Regions from separate parts of the Homo sapiens genome. Here region 2 is linked to region 1. The links come from fine-mapping of genetic effects on gene expression. A gene starts in region 1. The other region holds a variant in brackets. All regions are shown on one strand. Distances are between the middles of the regions.

Evidence for each region.
Region 2: its variant is fine-mapped to the expression of APC in monocytes (Quach 2016, PIP 0.95).

The regions. Positions count from the first base shown.
Region 1 is chr5:112,734,769-112,742,768 of GRCh38, forward strand. It overlaps APC (APC regulator of Wnt signaling pathway), which reads left to right and starts at 3,117. Exons shown (of 16, transcript NM_000038.6): 1 at 3,117-3,157.
Region 2 is chr5:112,694,152-112,711,098 of GRCh38, forward strand. It overlaps a transcript of APC not described here. Among named protein-coding and RNA genes, the nearest start is that of APC, 35 kb to the right of the region's middle. RefSeq lists a silencer at 10,001-10,295 and enhancers at 10,001-10,295, 13,327-13,386. The variant T/G (reference allele first, on the strand shown) is at 13,536.

The DNA.
Region 1 (8,000 bases):
GGGTTTTCTTGTGTGTGTGTGTGTGTTTTTTTTTTTTTTTGAGATAGAGTCTTGCTTTGTCACTGAGGCTGGAGTACAGTGGTGTGATCTCGGCTCACTGCAGCCCCCACCTCCCAGGTCCAAGAGATTCTCATGCCTCAGCCTCCCAAGTAGCTGGGGAATGTAATATTTAAGACATTAAGAATCCTATTAATCCTATTTAGTCATTTTTTTTTGTAGCTGCAGAAGGTTCAGAAGGGTTTTTTAAGTTGAATTATATGTTCATATTTACAACATTTACATATGAAACCATTTACTAAAAGCAATGAAGCTGGTTATAACAAACACTGATACTGAAAATAAGAGATATGTTTGTCAGTGCGGTCTTTAAACAGTGTTACACAATTTATTTCTGTTTCATTTTGATCAGAAAAAATATATATATCTTTTGAGACATGGTCTCTGTTGCACAGGCTGGAGTACAATGGCGAGATCTCGGCTCACTGCAACCTCTGCCTCCTGGGTTCAAGTGATCCTCCCACCTCAGCCTCTAGAGTAGCTAGGACCACAGGCGCGTGTCACCACAGCTGGCTAATTTTTTTGTATTCTTGGTAGAAATGAGGTTTCGCCATGTTGCCCATGCTGGTCTCCAACTCCTGAGCTCAAGTGAACTGGCCACCTCGGCCTCCCAAATTCCTGGGATTATAGGCATGAGCCACTGCACCCTGCCCAGAAAATATTTTTAATGCATACATATATATATATATATATGTATATGTAGTGTAAATAACATCTTCAATCAAATAGAGATGGCAGGAGCTTTATTCTGAGCTATGTGCAAACTTGATAAGACAAGGTAATGCTTCAGTAATTTTCCATGCTGAAATTTGGCCCAGTATACTTTGATTATATATCTATATTTAATTATAGTTTTAAAATAGCTAAGCAGTTTTAAAAATTCAAATTAAACTTTTGTGGAATCTCTAAAAATAAGAAAAATATTACTGAGTAATTGGCAACATAAAATACAAAATGTTTAACTTGGCTTTCTTTTAGATTTGAAGCATAGTGACTAATGAACATATAATGGTCGTAGCTTTCTTTACAACTATGTCATTTAAGTCACTGATGAATATCTATGATACATGCAGTAAAAATTTAGACAAACATTTTGGCTACAAACTGGTTTACTAAATAATAGCTTGTATCATAGTCTGAGTCAAGAGTAATAGGCTTACAATTGTGTCTTAGGGTACTAAGAAGTTCTTTTGAGGACCTTTTAAAAGGTATTCTTTGTTTTGAAAGACTGTTTTCCTTCTGGAAGTTCTAGGCCTTATGAGAAATTACCTATTCTGAATTTGTCACAAAAAATGACTTGTAAATAAGTCCTGTGCAGTGAATCATGTGCTTTCAGTAAGAGGATTTTGAAAGCCTTTTGTAAAATGAAGTCATTCTCAAAAGAGAGTTATTTAGAATATAATCAAATTGATTTACATGCTTTTATTTATTTCAAATATGAAGGGAAATTGTTTCTAAATATATTTAAACTTTTAATAGAACAGTAGTATGCCATCAGTGTGGAAATAACTCACTTGTTAAATAAATATTTGGGGTGTATTTGCTGTATATCAGGCATTGTAACACAGGGACTAATGAAAGAGAAAAAAAACAAAGCACGAAAGGACAGCAGAAATAGCTCCATAATCTCACTTTCCAGGAATAACCTCTATGGACATTTTGTTGTGTGTCTATTGCTTTTCTAATATATACATTTTTTAATCAAATGGAATTGCCTCAAATATGCTATTTAATAGCTTGCTTCTTTTCATACTATTTGAAAATTAAGAAACGATTATAATATGCTTCATTTAAAAACTTTAAGTTTAGGCCGGGCACAGTGGCTCACGCATGTAATCCCAGTACTTGGAGGGACCGAGGTGGGCGGATCACAAGGTCAGGAGATTGAGACCATCCTGGCCAGCATGGTGAAACCCCGTCTCTACTAAAAATACAAAACTTAGCTGGGCATGATGGCACGTGCCTGTAGTCCCAGCTACTTGGGAGGCTGAGGCAGGAGAATCGCTTGAACCCGGGAGGTGGAGGTTGCAGTGAGCGGAGATTGCACCACTGCACTCGCCTGGTGACAGAGCAAGACTCTATCTCAAAAAACAAACAAAGAAAACTTGAAGTATAGTATCCTTTTAAATTTTAAATAGATAATAGAAACTGGTTTCCCCCCATTTAAACCAGAATTTAAGTTTAACTTTATATATTCTTGACAGTTTGGATTTTGTCCTTCAACCTCATAAAATTGGGAATTTAAGCATCACCTGGTTCGATTTAAATGCAATGTAGAATTTGCATTAAAATACTACATTAAAGCCTCAGATTTGTAGTAGCTAACAGCACTTCTATGTATGTGTCAGGGACTGCTCTAAATACTTCATATATATTAACTCCTCTATTCTGTACTTCTGTTCCCGTTTTATACAGCAGGAAATTGAAACACTGAGAGGTTAAGTAACTAAAGTTACAGAGCTAGAGTGACAGGAGTAAAGCTTCAACTCAGGCAACCCAGACTTCCAGAGTTCTGATCTCCACTACTAAGCTGCTAGCATAGCTTTTCTGGTAACTATTTTTAATTCAAATATAATTCGAGTGATCTATCTAACAAGTCATCACTCTGACAACTCAGTGACTTGTAATGTAAAATTATTCATTGTAATTCATTTAATATTATTGTTTCTCTGTGCTGCAAAAATCATAGCAATCGAGATGTAATTTATTACTCTCCCTCCCACCTCCGGCATCTTGTGCTAATCCTTCTGCCCTGCGGACCTCCCCCGACTCTTTACTATGCGTGTCAACTGCCATCAACTTCCTTGCTTGCTGGGGACTGGGGCCGCGAGGGCATACCCCCGAGGGGTACGGGGCTAGGGCTAGGCAGGCTGTGCGGTTGGGCGGGGCCCTGTGCCCCACTGCGGAGTGCGGGTCGGGAAGCGGAGAGAGAAGCAGCTGTGTAATCCGCTGGATGCGGACCAGGGCGCTCCCCATTCCCGTCGGGAGCCCGCCGATTGGCTGGGTGTGGGCGCACGTGACCGACATGTGGCTGTATTGGTGCAGCCCGCCAGGGTGTCACTGGAGACAGAATGGAGGTGCTGCCGGACTCGGAAATGGGGTAGGTGCTGGAGCCACCATGGCCAGGCTTGCTGCGGGGGGAGGGGGGAAGGTGGTTTTCCCTCGCACTGTCTTAAACCGATGGCCTTTCCTTGGCACAGGGTCCACTGCAGCATGCCAAACGAGGAGGCAGGGGCGTCGTCCCCCCGCCCCCCACTGCAGCACTGGAGATGGATTTCCTGTACTTCGGATCCAGGGTTTTTGACAGAAGAGGAAGAAGGGGGAGGGGTAGAAGTGTTAAGGGGAGTCTGCTGAGAAAAGCTGTTTTTGAAGCCAGAAGGGGTTTTTGTTTTTATAATGCCATTTGACAGAGTGGAATAACAGTATCTAAGGAAACGGGTAGAGGACAACAAAGAATGGAGCATATTCATGGCGAGGAGCAAAAGCTCTACCCCATTGAAAGGCTTCTTTTCCTCCCTGGCGACAAGGACACATGCATTGGTGGCCAAAAGAGAGAGGAGACAAAACCGCTGCAGATGGCTGATGTGAATCTAGTGGAAAGAGCTACTGGGGATGAGAGAAAGAGGAGGAGGCAGGTACTGCAGAGCGTGAGTGGTGGTGTTGGTTGGTGAAATACTGGTCACCAGTAGTGTGCCTGCTTTTGTAAAACATCTAAGTAAACTCCCTGTGAACAGGGTGGCAAACAGATACCAGTGTCTTTGTTAGTTACAAAATGCAGTGGTAGTGGCTTTTTGCGGACGACTGCAGCAGTGCTTTTTCTCCCTCTGTTAGGCCGAAAAGACAACTGCAGAGGAATAAGAAACCTTGCAGCAAATGCTGGGGTAGAAGCCCATTTACAAGAAGCCATAGTTTATAAATGCAGCCTGAACAGCAGAAAAAAAATTACTGTTTTTTAAAGTAGGAATAATGTCAGGCTATGAATGTTTTGTCATTGGAATGTATTGGACACTTTGATTCTACATCACGAAAGTGATGCTCAAATTCTTTGATTTAACATAAATCCTATACGAAATCTTAATAAATTATGTATGAAACAGTGGATCTTTTCTTTTGTTAGTGAAGCTTTTATGCCATTAATTAGGTCATTCAAGAGCAAACCACTTTACAACGTAAATTACTTTGTCAAAAATTATGGTGAACAAATTTTTGTAGGCCTAATATTTAAGACCTATAGTTAAGTAATTTTATATTTCTCTTTGGTTGCTTTTAGATAACACTGAATAAATATTTAAGATATTAATTCAGTGTGCAAATATTTTAAATTAAAGCAACATGGCTTTTCTTCTAGATGTATTTCTGTTTAGTGAGTACTCATGAGATATACTCTTGATATAAAGTGTTTTTCATTGAGCTTTTTTTTCCTTTACCTAAATGTAAAAGCCTATCTTTATGCATACTTATAGTAGCCAGCCTGCCACACCTCCCCACTCCCTGAACAAGGATGGCAGTGGCTTTGTAAAGCCCTCCAGGGTCAGTGACAGTGTCTCTTAAATAATGTTTATGTAATAGAAAGTCTTAAGATGACCTATTATATTGTTTCAGTAATATTTTCAAGATAATGCGGAATTGGGCTGGCTTAGATAAATAAGACTACATAAGTTTTTCACTGATAAATTTAAATAGTTCTTTAAAAAATTATTTCTGCTTTAAGAATTACTTGATCATGGATATCAGGGTTAATAGTACTTAGGAGCCGGGCGTGGTGGCCCATGCCTGTAATACAAGCTAAACAGGAGGCTGAGGGAAGCTGAGGCAGGAGGATCACTTGAGCCTTGGCGTTCAAGACCAGCCTGGGCAACCAAGCAAGACCCTATCTCAAAAAAAAGTACTTAGAGTCTCTTTTTTAAAATCTGATGGAAACTATGGCTAGAACTAAAGATGTCACATTAAAATTCCAAATGACATTTAACAGCTAATATTACTCAGTTCTTTGAATTCCATTAGCATAGTGTTTGAGAGTCTATAAAACTATTATTTTTACATAAATTACCTTTTACCATTTTAACAGCTCATTGTAGCATTATTTTTATTTTAAATGTTAGAGACTCCTATTCAAGTATGTTGTGACTTTATCCAAGGTCAAATATTGTATAACAATGTAAAGAACTTAAGTCTTCTATTTTATTCTAATTCTATAAAACTATAATGCCTTTTATTACATACATACAAAATAATATATAACAGAGGTAATTTGAAAAACAGTGTAAGTCACTGACAAATTATTCAAAAAATGAAAAGGCAATCCTACTTGGTTGTGGATTTTTATCTACAATATAAGAATGCTTTAAAAAATACCTGGTGACTAAGCAAATGGAGAAGCAGCAGTTTTCATAATGACATTCATAAACGACTTTTTAAAGATCGTCTTATTAATCATATGAACACATTTAAGTAGAACAGTGTTAGATTGAGATGTTTTTCTGAATTAAATAAGAAATAAAGAACTAAAGTTTATTTCATTCCTCTTGTAGTATATCTAATCTATGACTGACCTATTGGCTTTAGTGGTCTTTGAAATTATTCACTGCTCTGATATGGCCTGAATTGTGCTGTTTAAGGAATTTAAAATTAAATATTCATAAATGTTTTATGAACTGAATTTAAGCTATTGAAGTTTTTGTTTTTTGTGTTTTTTTTTCTTTTTTTTTTTTTTTTTTTGAGACAGGGTCTCACTTTGTCAACCCAGGCTGGCGTGCAGTAGCAAACATGGCTCACTTGCAGCTTCAACCTCGCAGGCTCAAGTGATGCTCCCACTTCAGCCCTCCAGGTAGCAGGGACTACAGGCACATACCACCGTGCACAGCTAATTTTTATATTTTTTGTAGAGATGGGGTTTCACCATGTTGCCCAGGGTGGTCTCGAACTCGTGAGCTCAAATGATCCTCCCACCTCAGCCTCCCAAAGTGCTGGGATTTACAGGTGTGAGCCACCATGAAGTTTTTCCATTTGCATTAATTGCTCTGTAGATTTTACCATTTTTGTCTGTTTTATAAACTGTTACTCATTTTATGAAATTTAACCAATCTTTTATACTTGTATATGTTTAAATGATCTTTTATACTTGTATATGTTTAAATGTTCTCTTCAATTTTGATCTCCCTTCTCCCCCTTTTCTTGTATTAGAATCTGAAACCTACCTATGCAGCACATAAAATGGGATAGAGTATTATGGTTCAGAAAAGATGGGTAATAGTTTAGGAAATATATTCACTACATATTTATTAGGATACCTTCTAAATATCATCTTTGAAAAATGCTGGAGTCAAATAAGACACGTAAACTAATCTCTAAGAAAACTCATGGTAGAATTATGTGAAATTTCATTACAAGTTAAACACTGCTTTGGCTACTCCTAGGATATTTAAAGATTTATATAATCTAAGATATCCTCTAATTTAGAAGAATATGGTGGATTGCTGTTTGAAACACTGCTTTTTCATAAAATCTGCTTAGAGTCACAGAGAATTTTTGAAAACTAAATTACTTTTGAAGTACTAAGTATCTTGAATGTACAATGAGAACATTAGGTGAATAGGTATGTTCTCAAAAGTTGACTTTGTAAATCAAATCATACATCATCAGTTGATACAAGGTAAGCCTTCTCCCCTTTATTCTCACACCCTGCACCCACTCTTCTTGTGTGTTTAATATGCATAAATTCTTGAGAAATAGCATCATTTTGTGAGTCTGTTTTTTACAGTTAATGAGATTTTTAAAAAAATTTTATTGTGATAAATATACATAAAATTTACCATCTTAAGCACTTTTAATTGTACAGTTCTGTGGCATTAAGTTCATTCACATTGTTGTGCAACCATCACCACCACCCATCTCTAGAAATTTTTAATCTTCCCTAATTAAAACTCTGTGCACATTAAACACTAACATGCCATTTTCCCCTCCCCCCAACCCTTGGCAACCACCACTCCACTTTTTGTCTCAAAGAATTTGACTATTCTGGGAACCTCTAATAAGAAAAACCATTTAATATTTATTCTTTTGCACCTGGCTTATTTCACTTAGCATAATGTCTCGAAGGTTCATCCATACTGTAGCCATGTGTCAGAATTTCTTTCCTTTTTAGGTCTAAATGATGTTCCATTGCATGTATATGCCACATTTTGTTCATTCATCTGTCAGTGGACACTTCAGGTTGTTTCCACCTTTTGTCTATCATGAATAATGCTACTATGAACGTGGGTGTGCAAGTGTCTGCTTGGGTTTTACTTTTTTTGTGTGTACTCAAACCTGTGTTTTTAATTTACATAATTTTTGAACATTATTAACTCAATACTGTTTTTAAGATCTATCCATTTTACTTTATGTCCATCTAGTTTGTGATGCTAACTCTGCTCTATAGTATTCTATAGTACCTATCACTGTTCCTCCAGTGAAGGCCGTAAGTTTTCTCCAAATCCCGTTAACCACAAACACCTTTATGATATACATTCTTATACATATCTCCTTGGACTATGTTATTTATGTATTTCTGTATAACAAATTGTACCAAAACTTAGTGGCTTAAACAGTTTCTGTGGGGCAAGAATTCAGGAATGTCTTAGTTGGATGGTCTGACTGAGGCAGGATCTCTTATGAAGTAGCAGTCACGATGTCAGTCACAGATACAGTCATCTGAAGGGCTTGACTAGACTGACGGATCTTCTTCCAAGATGGCTAACTCACATAGTCTCAGTTTTTCATTGGCTATTGGCAAGAGACCTCAGTTCCTTGTCACGTGGGCCTCTCCATGGGGCTGCTTGAATGTCTTCATGACATAGCAGCTGGCTTCCCTCAATGATTCTAACAGAAAGGCCATTTATGACCTAGACTCAGAAGCCACACACCATTGCTTCTGCTGTATTCTCTTTATTAGATATGAGTCA
Region 2 (16,947 bases), 36 kb before region 1:
ACAATTGGACATCTATATACTAAAAAAGAGAGAACCTTAGCCCTTATCTTGTACCACACACAAAAATTAAGGTAAAAATAGATCATTAACCTAAATGTACAACATGTAACATGTCTAGAAAAAGTCACAGGAGAAAAATTTTGTGACCTTGGGTTAGGCAAAGATTCATTAGATACAACACCTATAACATGATCCACAAAAGAAATAAAAGCTGATAACCTGGACTTCATTAAAACTTAAAACTTCTACTCTTGAAAAGACACTGTTAAAAATATAAGCTACAGACTGTGAGAAAATATTTATAAAATACATATTCATTAAAAGACATATTTCCAAAATACATAAAGAGCTCTCTCAACTCAGTAGGTTTTTAAAATCCCATTTAGAAATAGGCAAAAATTTGAACAGACACTTCAACAAATTAAATACATAGATGGCAAATAAGTACATGAAAAGATGCTCATCATTTAAGATATGTGATTGGCAGTTTCTTATAAAGTTAAATATACACTTACCGTATGACCCAAAAATCCCATTCCAAGGTATTTACTCAAGAGAAATGAAGACATATACCCACTCAAAAAACTGTACACAAATATTTATAATGGATTTATTAATAATCACCCCAAACTGAAAACACCCAAATATTTTTCAACCAGTGAATGGGTAACAAACAATCGTACATCCGTATAATGCAGTAAATAGACAGGAAATACTAAACATGCAACAACACGGGGGAATCTCCAATACATTATGCTAAGTGAAAGAAGCTGGACTCATAAGGTATAGGACAGTCTGCAAAAAAACAAAATAAGAGGGATAGAGAAGTAATCAGTGGTTGCCAGCAGCTGGAAATGGGGAGGGGTTGACCACGAATAGGCTCAAGTGAACATTTGGGTATGACAAAAAAGTTCTATATCTTGATTGTGGTGGTGGTTACATGACTGTCTGCATTTGTCAAAGCTTATTAAACTATACTTTTAAATGGTGAATTTTGCTGTGTATAAATTACAGCTCAATTTAAAAAAACAAAAACAAAAACAAAAAACTCTGACCCAGATCACTGTGGTCATTGTTGGTGGAGACTGCTGGCCTCTTAGCTCTCTTATGAGTGGGGTTACCAGCTAATCCCTGACATATTTGTGGTTCCAGGACTCCTAAAGGGTTGTGCAATGGTTTGTCTCCTTTCTCAAAGACAGCTGCTGGCTGATGGTAAAAGATAAAGAGAAAGAAAGATGTACACAGGCAAGTCAGGGAGAAATTTATCTTTCTTTTCCTTCCTGTCTTTCTTTTATATTCTTCCTCCCTCTTCTATTTCCTGCAGCCCTTATTTTTCTTTCACTTACTTTTCCTATTTATTCATCAGCTGAAACCTTGCTGAAAGGGATTAGCTGGGGGCTAAGTCGAGTAGGGCAAAAGGAAGCATTTGCTTCTAATCAGTAGTACACTGGTAAATGATTAGTAACCAGCTCTCTGAAACACCCACACACACACACAAACACACACACACACAAACACACACACACACAAACTAAAGTTTCTTTTAAATTTTACTGATATGAAGAGTATATAGCACAGGCTGGGTGCAGTGGCTCACGCCTATAATTCCCAGCAATTTGAGAGGCTGAGGCAGGTAGATCACTTGAAGTCAGGAGTTCAAGACCAGCCAAGGCAACATGGCAAAACCCCATCTCTAATAAAAAAAAAAAAATACAAAAATTAACTGGGCATGGTGGCACACGCCTGTAATCCCAGCTACTCAGGAGGCTGAGACAGGAGAATTGCTTGCACCCGCAGGCAGAGGTTGCAATGACCCGAGATCATGCCATTGCACTCCAGCCTGGGCAACAGAGCAAGATTCCATCTCAAAAAAAAAAAAACAAACAAAAAGAAAAAATAGAGAAAAAAGAGTATATAGCACATAGTGTATAAATATTAGCAAAACAGAAAATGTTCTTTAATGTGACTTTCATATAGCCAATAATTCTCCTGATTTTTGCCCATGATTGTTTCATTGATTTTTGCTGAACTTTTGTATCTGTAGCCAACCTATCATTATAAATAACAAACAAGTGTAGTTTTGACAAGAATCCTGGCTGATATTTTCTTAGTCATTAATGAGTAAGATGAAAATGAAACAACAAAGATATATGTTAGAACTTTATTTATTTGTCTATAATGTGAGCGACTTGGAAGAATTTGATAATGGTTTTTAAATACCGGAATAATATTTCCTCAATCTGTGTGCTATTCGCAAAGTAAGAGCAATAGACGTGACACGCTTTTAACTTTAATGTACAGCATTAACATTTTCTCCATCACTAGACTATCAACAAAACAATAAGTCAAGCCCAGATTTTGAGCATTTCTTGAGTTCCCTGGTGTAAATGCTCTCGCTCTGGCCAATTTCAAACTACCAATGTGACATCATTGAACTTAGTGTTTTGAGTAGATGTGCCCTAGAACATTATACAGTTTTTCCACCATTTAGATACAAGAGATGGAATGGCATCAGGAGCATAGGAAATGGTTAAATGTGAGAAAATGATTTGAAAGTGATGAGTTTTGAGTGCTTATTACCTTTGTTTTCAATATAATTTATTGAATTGCAATTTTATATTATTTAATTTTTAATAATAGCTGTGTGTAATTGCCAACTCATAAAATCTCTAAACTGACTTTCTCTCAGTTCTTTAAGCTGGTTCCAGTCTACTAAAGATCTTGGTGCAAGTCTCTGGATCCCTCCCCAACCCCAAATGACGGGGGAGCTGTAGCAGCATGAAGGGAGAGCGGATGCAAACATATGTTGTTTCTCTTGAGCCCCACCGCTCTCAACGTGCTGCTGGGGCTGCTTTGGTCTTGTGGGATGTTCCCCTGAGCTACTCAGACTGGTTGTTAGGGCGGATTATCAATGTCATCAGCCAAACCATAAACTGTGTCAAGATATTGATGTGAATTTCAGTGAAATAAATGATTTGGTTTTCTTTGTTAAATTTTATTCATTAAAATATGCTTTTATAAAATGAGGATTTATTGTAGAGGGCAATATTGTTATTCTGAAATGCCTTTCATTTTAAAGTAAACCTGGAAAGAGCACCACCAAAATGGTGACAATTCTTATCTTGAATGGTGAGATTTTTTTCTTTCTTCTTGAGATTTTCTGGAGTTTCCAAATTTTCTATGATAAACAGCTAAGATTTTGGTAGTATGAAAAACAATTGAGACAAATCTTTAGTAACTTGATATTCAAGTTACATTGGTGCTGTCCCTTTAAGTACTAGAAGAATACGTAGCACTTTCAGTAAAATAATGCCGAGGGAGGAGACATTGCTATGCTCAGTTTCATTTAAAAGCCAGATGTCCAGGAATTGGATATGGCTAATTATCAATTTCTACCCAGATGGAGAGTTTTCCTTTTTTTTTTTTTTTTGTCATTAGACAGAAAAGCACAGAGTCTCTGGCTGATTATTGCATTCAGCCACTTTAATTGGAAAGTTTTAAGAAATAGGTGGAGCTTAAAAGAAGGGAAGCTTAGTGTATCATGAGTGAAATGTTGATACAGGCACAAGAGAAACAAAAAAAGAAGAAACATGTATAATTGGTGTCATAAAGATTTTCAAACTTGCTCTATGACCAATTCAATTACTGCTGGAAATGGAATTCATACCTTCTCATGTCTGCCTTCCAAATTATACCAAGATTTAGCAGCTTATAACAAGAAGTATTTTTTTTTCACAGTTTCTATTGGTCAGGAATTTGAGCATGGTTTACCTAGGTACCCGTGCTTCAAGGTCTCTCATAAAGCTTTCAGCCAAGTCTGTGCTATCATCTGCAGCCTTGACTGGGAGAGTCACTTCCAAGCTCTCTCACATGATTGATGGCAGGGAGTTCCTCATGAACTGTTGGACTAAGAACCTCAGTTCTTCACTAGCTTTTGGGCAGAGGCCTCCCTCAATTCCACGTCAGGTGGGCCTCTCCATAAGGCAGTTTATGTTCTGGATTGGAGCATGTCTTCCACCTTGGTTCATCCATCATTTCTTGTCTTCTAGACACTTGCCAAATCTCTCATCAGCTGATGGAACATTCTTCATTCTCAATAGTCACAAATTTATTCCCTTTTATGCAGTTATTGGGCAGGGAACAGACCCAGGTTTTATCATGAAAGGGTGTTGCATTTTGTCAAATGCTTTTTCTGTATCAAATGATGTGATTACACATGAATTTTCTTCTGTAGCCTGTTGTATGTAGATAATGTAGATCACATTGATTTTCGAATATTGAACTAGCCATGCATACCTGGGAGAAATCCTACTTGCCATGTCATATTTTTTTTAAATATATTATTGGGTTTGATTTTCTAGTACACTCAAAATCCTCCATATCTGTGGGTTCTGCATCCATAAATTCAACCAACTGCAGATCACAAATATTTAGAAAAAGAACAATAAAAATAACAATATAACAATGAAAATAATAAAAATAAAAACCAATATAGTATAACAACAAGTTACATAGCATCTATCCTGTATTAGGTATTACAATCATGAAGTGCATAACAATATTTTAGTCAATAACAGACCACATATACAACGATGATTTCCTAAAATTATCATTCTATATTTTTGCTGTAACTTTTCTATGTTTAAATATACACACACCTACCATTGTGTTACCATTACCTACGGTATTCAGTGCAGTAACCTGTTGTATAAGTATGTAGCCTAGGAGCAATAAGCTAGATCATATATCCTATGTGTGTCCTAGGCTATACCATCTAGGCTTGTGTAAGTACATGCTATGATGTTTGCACAATAACAAAATCACCAAACGCATTTCTCAGAATGTATTCCTGTCGTTAAGCAGAGCATGTCTATAAAGTCATCTAGAGGTGATTTAACATATACAGAGGATATGCCTGGATTATATGCAAATACTGTGCCATTTTATATAAGAAACAAGTATCTGTGGAATTTGGTATTCTCAGGAGCTTGAAACCAATTCCCCATGGATTCCAAGAAAAAACAATGTTTCGTTGAGGATTTCTGTGTCTAAGTTTATGAGAAATATTGGTCTGTAATTTCCTTTTATTCTACTGTTTTTGTCTAGTTTGGGTATCAAAGTAATACTGGCCTCATAAAGTGAATAGAGAAGTAGTCCTTCTTCTTCTATTCTCTAGGATAGAATGTTTAAAATCAGAGCTTATTCTTCTCAGAATGTTTGGTAGAGTTCTCCAGTGAAACCATCTGGGTTTGGAGATTTCTTTTTCCAGAGCGTTTTAGTGGCAGTTCAATTTATTTCATGGTTATAGGACTATTCTGTTTCATCTTGTTTGAGCTTTGGTCATTTACGGTTTTCAAAAATTGGTCCATTTCTTCTAAAGTTGTTTAATTTATAAGTGTACATGTGTCCATGGTATTCCCTTTTATTCTTTTAATAGCTGCAAGAATTATAATTATATCCTGTTTCATGACTGATATTGGTAATTTGTGCCCCCTCTCTTTTTATTTTGTCAGGCTTGCTAGAGGTTTATCAACCAGCTTCATGTTCTATTGATTTCCCTATTGTTATTCTTTTCAATTTCATTGATTTCTGCTTTTATCTTTATTATTTCCTTCCTTTTGCTTTTTTTGAGTTTATTTTGCTCTTCATTTTTCTTGAGGTAGAAACTTAGGTGATTAATTTGGGATCTTTTCTAAGGTAATCATTTTATTTTTTTGAATGTAGTCATTTAGTGCTATGAATTTCCCTCTCAGCACCACCTTAGCTTCATTCCACCAATTTTGATATGTTGTATTTACATTTCCATTCAGTTCTGTATATTTTCTAAAACTTTCCTTTGAGACTTCCTCTTTGCTGAGGTATTATTTAGAATTGTGTCATTTAGCCCAGGCACAGTGGCTTACGCCTGTAATCCCAGCACTTTGGGAGGCCAAGGTGGGCAGATCACTTGAGGTCAGGAGTTCGAGACAAGCCTGGCCAACATGGTGAAACCTTGTCACTACTGAAAATACAAAAATCAGCCGGGTGTGGTGGTGGGCGCTTGTAATCCCAGCTACTCGAGAGGCTGAGGCAGGAGAATCGCTTGAACCCGAGAGGCGGAGGTTGCAGTGAGCCAAGATCGTGCCACTGCACTCCAGCCTGGGCGACAAGAGCAAAACTCCGTCTCAAAAAAAAAAAAAAAGAAGTGTGTCATTTAATTTTCAAGTGTATCGAGATTCTCCCATTGCCTTTCTCTCATTGATTACTAATTAAATTTCATTATGCTCAGAGGACATATTCTGCATAGTTTTGTTTTCTGGCCAAAGATGTGGTGTGTCATGGATGCTTTAAAAAAAAAAAGTGTATTCTACTGAGTGTTGTATTAATGTCAGTTAGATCCTATTGATTAATTCTGTTGTTCAAGTCTTCTATGTATTTGCTGATTTTCTGCCTAGTAGTTCTATCAATTACTGAGAGAGGGATGTTGATGTCTCTAACTGTAATTGCAGAGGCCCATGATAAGGCATTGAATTTGAAAAAAAAAATACAACGTTTGAATATAAATTTAGGTGAAAAAGTAAATATTTCTTTAGAATGAAAAAATAAATCTAGAATGCTGACACAAAATCCACAAGCATCACAAAACCTGGAAAAATAACACAAGTGCATTATTTTACTGCCTGACATACCTCTGTAGTTTTGTCCTAAATTTTTTTCTAGATGCTCTTTAAGTGGTGATTTTGTTTTATTATAATTTAATAGATTGAATAGAAATATAATTGTCTTTCTTCTAACATGGTTAATCACAAAATTTTTATTATTGATAGTTTAGATTTTTTTCAGCTTGACAACTTGTTATTAGTAATGGCTTGTGATTTCTTAAGATTGTTATCTCATTTGGGAAAATTTCCATCATGTCTTTTCTTTTTCCGTGTTACCTACACGTTCATTTTCCATATGTGCTATAAAGTTTGGAAGAATTTTCTATAGACTAACTTCTGGCTGTATACATACTTCGGGTTCAGGTGCCACAGAACATGTTCATGTTACAACACAAACTCTGGTCCTGCCCCATTGTGTTAGAATGCAGACAGAGTCAGGCACTGGACTGTAGAAGTACTCCTGGAAGTTATTACTCCACTAAGATAGTTATCAATAAGATACTAGACACAGACATAACTATGAATCACATAAATATCCTCTGACCAAATTTTTAAAAATGTCTCTTAAACTCAACTTCCCCTTAGCTGGAACCCAAAGTTATTACAGCTACTCTAATACCACCTGACAAAACAGACCTGTGACAGACAGTAAGTCAAAGTGGAAAGAGAAATGCCCTTAACCAATTGTGATTAAGAGATACTACTTTTGCAGATTTTACAAAAACTTATGAACATATTGCTAAGGCATTTTCCAGGACCTTGAAAAGGGCCCACGCAAGTGAAGAGCCTTGAAGCTTAACATTCATTAGTTTCATCAAAAATTAAGTCCTGCTACTGATATTTTAGTGGAATATACAGAGGAGAAGGAAGTAAACACTGGTACTTAGCCCCCCATCTAGCAGCAGAAGTTTCTTGGATGTCTTTTTAAAAGTACTTTTTATTATGAAAAATTCCAAGCATACACAAAAGTAGTAAGAATAATATAATGAATACTCATGGTACTCATCATCCAGCTTCTGTTTGTTTGGACACTTTCAATTCAAGAAATTGTAGGAGATAAATACAAATATGAATAAGATATGGCCTATGCCCTCATGTATGTATCTATTATAGTAAAGAAGACAAGACATGAGGCCAACACATGGCAATGTAATACTACCTAAAGGAGAACAATAAGCCATGGAAGCAGAGATGACCTCTGGCCAGGGATGACCAGTAAGGGCTTCAAGGAAGACATGGTCTAGGCAAAAAACAAGTACACATTTTAACTTGTCGACGCTGAGACAGAATTGAGATATCTAAAATACATATTTTCTGGGTTTTTACCCTGGAGCTCCTCTTGACATTTAGGAAATAATCCAACCTCCTTACTATCTATCTAGACCTCTAACTGGATACTCAGATTCATTCAGATTTAAGTATCATGTATTGAGTGCTTGCCAAGTGTGACGGCTAATTTTATGTGTCAACTTGACTGGGCTAAGGGACGCCCAAATAAGTGATAAAATATTATGTCTGGGTGTGTCTGTGAGGGTGTCTCAGAAAGAGAGTAGCATTTGAATTCATAGACTGAATAAAGAAGATCTCCCTCACCAATGTGGGTGAGCATCTTCTCCTGCCTTGGACGTTAACTCTCCTGTTTTTTCGAGCTTTCAGACTCAAACCGGCATTCATACTGTCAGCACCCTGATTATCAGGCCTTCAGACTCAGACTGAATTACACCACTAGCTTTTCTGGTTCTCCAGCTTATGGATGGCAGATTGTGGGATTTCTTGGCTTCTATAACCACATGAGCCAATTTTTATAATAAATCTCATATATATTCTAGTGGTTCTGTTTCTTTGGAGAACCCTAAATAATGCACCAGGTGCTGGTCATTTTCATATGTACCATTTCATTTAATCCTCACAACACAACAAGCCTGAGATAGATATTATAAGCACCATGTCTGAAGATGAGAAGAAAAATCCAGAGAGACAACTTGTATAAAGCTGCACAGATTAAAAAAAAAAAACATAACTAAGCCCAGAAATTCTAACTTCAAGTGTTTTTTATCACCTACCCCTTCATGGTACTTTTATTAAATTTTCAAAATACTTCCCCATTTCACAAACCTTCAGTGGCTCTCAGTCACTACATGATGAAATTAAATGTCCTTAGTTTACCATTTTCCATTCTCTACAATCCAGTTTGGTTTTCCTTCAACTTTATTTTCCATTTGTAAGACTATGTCTTAATTCTCTTACTGTGTTTAGGAGATTGCCCTCCTCATGAAGCAGAAATTCCCTCTCACTATCGAAATTAGAAGTTCATATGCTCATTTTCCTGGCCTTCCTATCAATTACCGCTGTGCTGTCAAACATGGTAGCCACTGGCCACACGTGGCTACTGAGCACTTGACGTATGTCTAGTGGCACATGTTGAAATATTTTGGATATATTGGGTTAAATAAAATATATTATTAAAATTGGTTTCACCTGGTTTTTGTTTTGCTTTAGAGTCAGGGTCTCCCCCCCGTCACCCAGGCTGGAGTGCAGTGTCACAATCATAGCTCACCGCAGCCTGGAACTCCTGGGCTCAAGTGATCCTCCGGCTTCAGGTTCCTGAGTAACTAGGACTACAGGCATGCACCACCATGCCCAGCTAATATTTTTTTGTAGAGACAATGTCTTACTATATTACCCAGGCTGGTCTCAAATTCCTGGTCTAAAGCAATCTTCCCATCTCAGCCTCCCAAACTGCTTGGATTAGAGGCTGGTTTTTTGTTTTTGTTTTTGTTTTTAAACTGTCTTATGTGGCTACTAGAAAATTTAAAATTATGTATGTGGCTTGCATTATATTTCTATCAGACAGCATGTAGGTAGAGTGTTAATGTGTTACTAGGTTATATCCATGATTTGCCCCCATTCTAGGCTTGAGGTTGAAAGCTAATGTTGTGAATATGAAGTGACCCTCCATTCTGTTGAGAGTAGTGGCAGTGATAGTAACTGCATCTATCTTCCAGAAGCAGCAGAGGCATCATCCACTCTGGGTCAAGTGGTACTGGCAGTCTCAGTTTTGGTATTTGCATCCAGCAGTGGCTACAGTGATGGCTTCTTGGGACCAGTTCCGGGCATAATGTTGCGTGTTGTTCCTGAAGATCCTGTAGATGTCAAATATCCTTCTAATAAATTCCTTTTCTGCTAAGGCCCTTCATGAAGTCTCCCTCTCCACCCCAGTCCACAGGATCCTTCCCTTTTTCAGCATCAATAGTGAATAAGATCCAAACCACGCACTTGGCACTTTGCCCATACTATTTATCTTATCATAGGAAAGTGTCTAGTTTTCTCAGCCAGACTGTAAAATTCCCTGTGGCAGGAACCCTGTCTTTACATAATTGTTTCTTAGTATCTGTCAGACCTTGGTCACAGCATCACTGGAGGAATACTTGTTAGTTACCACTGCAGATCTTTGAAGTAGGCAGGGTGGCTGTCATTATCTCTGTTTGTACAGATGAGGAAACTGTTGTTCAGCGACTGGCTTGAGGTTGTGCAGCTGGCTTGCTCATACTGGAGCGGTAGCTCAAGCCTTCTCACTGCCTGCCAACATCTCTTTCCTCTATTTCAGGCCCTGCCAGATAAAATGGTGTATTAATTTCATAGAGCTGTTATAACAAAGTACCACAGATTGGGTGGCTTAAAACAACAGACATTTATTGACTCAGAGTTCTGAAAGTTATAAATCCAAAGTCAAGGTGTCCACAGGGCCATGTTCCCTCTGAAACCTGTAGGAAAGTCCATGCATGCCTCTTCCTAGCTTCTGATGGTTTGTTGGCAGTCTTTGGCATTCCTTGGCTTGTAGCTGCATAACTCCAATCTGCCTTTGTCCTCATCTGGCATCCTCACGTTCTGTCTATGTCTTCACACGGTCATCTTCTTAAAGGGACAGTAGTCATGGTGGGTTATCCTACCCTATTGCAGTATGACCTCATTTTATCTTAATTATATCTGCAATAATTTTATTTCAAAATAAGGGTACATTGTTTGGTACTGAAAGTCAGAACTTCAACATACCTTTTTTCGGAGTAGTACAATTCAGTCTCTAACAGATGGTAACCATAAGAGAAGTAAATACCATAGAAACTGAAGACTTTGTCTTGTTTCTAGGATTTATTCCAAGGATTACATTGTAGTGAGGTAGAAGGCGGGGAAGTGTTTTCAAGTATATATTCCTACCTACTACTTGATTTGCATATGGACTGATAGGGCTTGGTTGAAGAGCATATGTTATGGGTTCAGTGAATCTCTTCTCTCATATAAGGACTAAATGGCCCCCACAGATAAGATGCCAGCCCCATCCTTTCTGGCAGGTCTCCCCAGCCATCCTGAGGCAGCTATCCCATTTAGAGGGGAAATGATGGTGTGTAATTCTGATAAGTCAATGGAAGAAGAGGTTGTTGCAGTGAGCCTATAACTCTTTTCCAGAAGGGTCTTTGGGGGTCTAAGGTATCAGCTGGGTCCTAGATGGGCCAGCAAGTCCCATCTAGGCACATTGAGAAGCCTAACCAATAGATGCAGCTAGCCTTTAGACTATGTATCCATTTTGCTGGTATTTCTTCTTTTCCTTTAATGAAAATATATATGTTATTAATAAAAATAAATACAGAATTTAAAAAACATTAAAAGGAAAATGCTAAAATGAGTTCTGCTCTAGTTCAAAAGAAAAGAACGACAGTAGTTTCCAGGCAGGCCCTTTGAGGTCCTACACAGGGATAGTAATACGACTGGGACCCTTAAGTGGGGGTAACTGAATGAAATCTCTAATGAAAGCCTGCTAATGACACAGAATCAAATCTCTGAGTAAGCCTGTCTCCAAATCCAATTTCTCTAGATGGGAAGGGCATGGGCTTTATGGTCAGCACTATCCCTTAATGTGAGACCTTGGGCAAGGGACTTAATCTCTCTGAATTTGCCCATGTATAAAAGTGAGGATAATTATCTAGCAGGGCTGTGGTGAGGATTTCATATCTAACATAGTTCACAGCACATATAATAGGGATTGCATTAACTTGAAGCCTTCCTTCTCTCCATACTACAACATATGTAATATAAACCCTGCCCACTGTCCCACAATCACCCACCCTTCTCCATCCCATCTGCTCTCTCTCCAACCTTCCTACTTATATTCTAGCTGAGGAGACATATAAATAAGAAGTGACTTGCATTTCATTTTAAAAACCAAGTGAAACCAATATAGTACACCACCAACTACTTAGATGCTGACAAACTTCCACACTTATTAAATCAACAAACACTGAGTGACAGAGCACTCATGCCAGGTATGGTGCTATGCACTGTGTATTCATTGGTAAACAAAACGTATTCCCTGTCTTATGGAGTCGACTGTTTAGTGTGGAGGCAGTGAAGAAACAAAACATAGATCATTTAAAAACATATTGAGTACCATGGAAGAAATGATAAGGTGCAATGATTGAGAATAATAAGGAAGACAGGGGAAAATTTATTATTCTTAGGAAGGACGGTCTTTCTGAGGTGATATTTAAACTGAAACTTGAAAGATAAGAAGTTAGACATTTAAAGAACAAGAAGAAGTGTCTTCTAGGTAGTCAAGGGGGCATATACAAACCAGAAAGGCAGTCGGGAGCTAGAAGTGTTTGAAGAGGAGTAGTGGGGGCTAGGGGAGACAGCGTCAACAACATACAAGGGCCATTTTGAATAAAATCCAACTTCTTACCATGACCTGGAGGCCCTACCTGATTTGGCCTCTGCCTACCCCGACCACATCTCCTTCCCACTGTCCATGTCACCTATTCTTTCTGTCCCTCTTTCATGTCAGACTTGCTACCACCTCAGGATCTGTTCTGTTGTTCCCTCTGTCTGAAAGCTTTTGCCCCAGATCTTCCAGTGGCTCCTGGGCCCCCATGGTCAGTCAGGCTTCAGATTAAATGTCAACTCTGGAGAAAGATCACTAATCACCACCTCTCACTGTCCATCATCTTTCTGTGTGGTTTGCTCTCTTCCTATCCCTTATCACCATCAAACATTCTTTTGTTGACTGTCTTTTATTGTCTATTCTTTCACACTAGAATGTAAGTTCCGTGAGTTTATTGTATTTCCTATTGCTGTAAATCTAGAGCCTGAAACAGTATCTAGTATATATCGGAAACCCAAATGATATTGTTCAATTAATGTTGAATGAAATGAAACTGAAGAGGTAATCCAAGGTAAAGAACTTATCAAACTGTGTGAGACAAACAAGGATTTCCCGGAAGAGGTGTTTTTAAATTAAAACTACAGGGTGGTAGTGAGAGGTGGTAGGGAAGCAGAGGTCGCAGCTACAAAATAATAACTTGCTCATCTCCGTTTCTCCGCTATCTTATGAGCCCTTGTGGGGCTGGGACAGAATTTTATTCATCTTTCTATCATCAGCGTCTAGTACGGGGAGTAGCAAATAGTGAGCACTCGATAGATGTTTGCGGAATAATGGACTAGTGTGTGCAGAAGGATCTATTAACTGGGCTGCAGCACAATTCAGAGAAGGCCAGTAAGTGCTGCAACTGAGACTCGGCTGCCTAGGCAGCAATGGCTCACGGGACAGAACAGCGAAGCAGTGCCCGGCAAGCGGAGCGCAGCACCCATTGCGCCTGCGCATAACAGGCTCTAGTCTCCGGGCTGTGGGAAGCCAGCAACACCTCTCACGCATGCGCATTGTAGTCTTCCCACCTCCCACAAGATGGCGGAGGGCAAGTAGCAAGGGGGCGGGGTGTGGCCGCCGGAAGCCTAGCCGCTGCTCGGGGGGGACCTGCGGGCTCAGGCCCGGGAGCTGCGGACCGAGGTTGGCTCGATGCTGTTCCCAGGTACTGTTGTTGGCTGTTGGTGAGGAAGGTGAAGCAC[T/G]CAGTTGCCTTCTCGGGCCTCGGCGCCCCCTATGTACGCCTCCCTGGGCTCGGGTCCGGTCGCCCCTTTGCCCGCTTCTGTACCACCCTCAGTTCTCGGGTCCTGGAGCACCGGCGGCAGCAGGAGCTGCGTCCGGCAGGAGACGAAGAGCCCGGGCGGCGCTCGTACTTCTGGCCACTGGGCGAGCGTCTGGCAGGTGAGTGAGGCTGCAGGCATTGACGTCTCCTCCCGGCAAAGCTTCCTCGGCTTTGCCCCGCCGCTGCTCGGGACCCTACGGTGCTCGGCCCGACTCTGTGGCTCTCTTCTCTCCATGTCTCACCCTCTCCCCTCCCCGCACTCCCCATTCAGGCCTCCAGTTGGCCCCTGGCTTTGCAGGTCCTCCATTCTCACGCAGTGGATGGGGGTCGCGACGCCCGCCGTCCTCCACCTTTCCTGGCTGCTGCTGGAGCTTCGCCCCTGCAAGTGGTGCCCCATTCGCGTTAGGTGGGTGGGTCGTCCGCCCTTCCCATTTTAGTCGCTTCCCCATCTTCCTCGTTTGGACCCTCTTGCTTCCTCTAAAAGTTTTAAACTCTCTGCCTGGGAAAATACCTGATAGCCCGGCATGTGGAGTTACAAAGAAAGGGCTGTTATCCAAAGGCCGGTGAATTTTGTTCACTTTGATGGGAGAATCAAGTCCCCAGGAGCCTTGGATGGTTAGGTCAGAGTCTGACTCCTTGACCCACCAAGTAGAGGAATGGTGCCTCTGTTGGCAAATGATTGTTCATCTAAATCATTCATTTTTTTCGGCTGTAGGAAATCTTTGGTCTCTGAACTGTTGAGGTGGGGGCGTGAGCTTTCTAGATCTAGTGAAAGAATTGGAAACTGTTATATTCGTTTTAAAAAAGAAGACCTTATGCAGTACATGTAAGACATCACTTAATGGTACAAGCAAGGATAAGTGATTTATTCTTTTATTCAGTGTTAGCTTAAATTGCCTACTGACGTCTTAGAATTCCATGTTGTACAAGCCCTTTGTTTCTATTTAGAAAGGACTAAAATGGAGAAAAGCTTTTTAAGTTCAAAACTTCTTAAATTGCTTGTATTCTCGATTGTTGTTACTGTTCAACCCTCCTTAGGAGTACTTGATATTTTCTATATGATTTAGTCTTGTGCCAGTCTCAGTACTCCCTCCTTTATTAGTGGAGCAAGGGTAGTCAGAATTACTGGTGTAAAAAACTGTCCTAAATAACGTAGTACCTTGCCAGAGTCTAAGTGCAAAATGTGGGATCAAAGCGGTAGTGGAGGAAGTTGCCATGGCTAATTTTTCCATCTTTCCCTGGATGGAAGGGTTGGATAACGTGTCAAGAGCCCCAAAATTGTAGAAGTGAGATTAAAAATATAAATGATAGCTTGCCCTTTGAAATTGCAAATGGGTGGACCTTTTTTATTAACATTAAATTGAGCAATATCGTTTTCTTGAAGTTATGCTAGATGTTCTCCAAAGTTGTTAAGCACAAACTATGCCTGCTGTATTAGAATTGTATGTTAAAAATTTTTAACGTGTGGGTTATAAATAGCCTGGCAGATTTGTTTACTTTTCATTCTGTCTCATAACACATAATCTATTTTTCCCTTTACTGTGGACTTTTGACCTTTTAATGCATTTTTAAAATTTAGAGATAGAATTGTTCAGCTTAAAAGAAGGAGGAATATTTTTATGTTTGCTTCTTGTATGGGCTAGTTCATTCGTTGCTAGCCTTCACTTTTCTGGAACCAGAGCCTGTGTGTTTTTAGAGCTGGTTGTCTCTGAATTCTCTGCATACAGTTTGAAGGGGCAGTAGCAAAGCAGGGGTTGCTGAGCCCCAATCAGTGGCTCACTGCTTCTGGCAAAATGATTTGTAGCTCTGTATCAAAAAACATCTGACCACAAACTCTTTAAAACCTCTCACTTTGGCAGGGTGTGGTGGCTCATGCCTGTAATTCCAGCACTTTGGGAGAGGCCAAAGCGCATGGATCGCATGAGTCCAGGAGTTCGAGACCAGCCTAGGCAACATGGCAAAGCCTCATCTGTACAAAAAAAAATACAAAAATAAGCCAGGCATGGTGGTGCATGCCTGTGATTCCAGCTACTTGGGAGGCTGAGGCAGGAGGATTGTTGGAGCCCGGGATGTGGAGGTTGCAGTGAGCCAAGATTGTGCCATTGCACTCCAGTCTGGGTGACAGTAAGACCCTGTCTCCTAACAAACAAACAAACCCTCTCACTCTTCCACTCTTATGGAATTTGGTATTTTTTCCTTTCTCTCTCTCTTTCTCTTTGTGAACCTTCTTTGTCTCCCTGTTCTTCCAACCCATTACCCTAATGCTGATTTCATTTGCCTCCCTGTGTAACCAGGATCCCATGATCATCAGCTTTTACTAAGCTCCTATTGATGGCCTAGAATGCTTCACTTTCTGTAGACTTACCTTTCTAGTCCCCAATCCTAAATAAGCCTCGCTAGCTTTACCAGTTTGACCCCTGAAATTCTGAGGGACATCAGAGACAGCTATGTGAGGATATTGGTCAGTTTTTATGCCAGTTGGTGCTCTCTGCTGGGTCTCTAGTGTTGTGTTCCTTTTCTTCTCATTTCCTCAGGTTTTTATAGCAAATAACTTAATCTCTTCCTTTGCTGAGAAAAATCTCAACCATCTGAGGTATATTTCCACTTCACTTTTTTCATCTCAGTGTCATCTCTTTATATATATATATCTCAGAGGAAGAAATGACCTTCTTTCTTTTCAAGAGCAACCCCCTCCCTCCAGATGTGTCCATGTACCCTTTCCCATCTTTCTTTCTCTAGAAACTGTCCATTTTCACTTCCTGTCCACCTTCTTCAGCCTCTCCCTCTCTAGCCTACATAGATGCTTGTATCTTCTGCCATATAAGTGTGTGTGCTGTTCAACTCTAGGAGGACGTTCTAAAGCTTGAGTCTGCTATGCCACTGTATTTCTATTCTTTTCTTTAAAGACTTATTCTTTCATCCCAGGAAGCTGTTATAGTAGGAAGAACATTGACTTTTGAGCAAGATAGAACTTTTGATCTGGGTTTTTGAAGTCTTTTAAAACCACTTTAGTAGCTGTGTAACTGTGGGTATGTTACTATTCAGATTTCATTCTGTATCTATAAAATATGTTATACTTAGCTCACAGGGTGGTGGTTAAAGAAATTAATACATGTTAAATGTCCATCCAAGTGTTTGGTACATTGTAGAGTTCTTACTAAATGCTTCTGTGCTTTGCACTCGTACTGCCTTTACCATTTCACCACTGAAACTACTGTTTTAAAAGTTATCTGTGACCTCCGAATCACCAAATCCAATGACGTTTCCTCTGTCATCCTTGGTTTCCTTAGACCCAGGGGTCCCCAAACCCCAGGCTGCAGACAGGTATCAGTCCT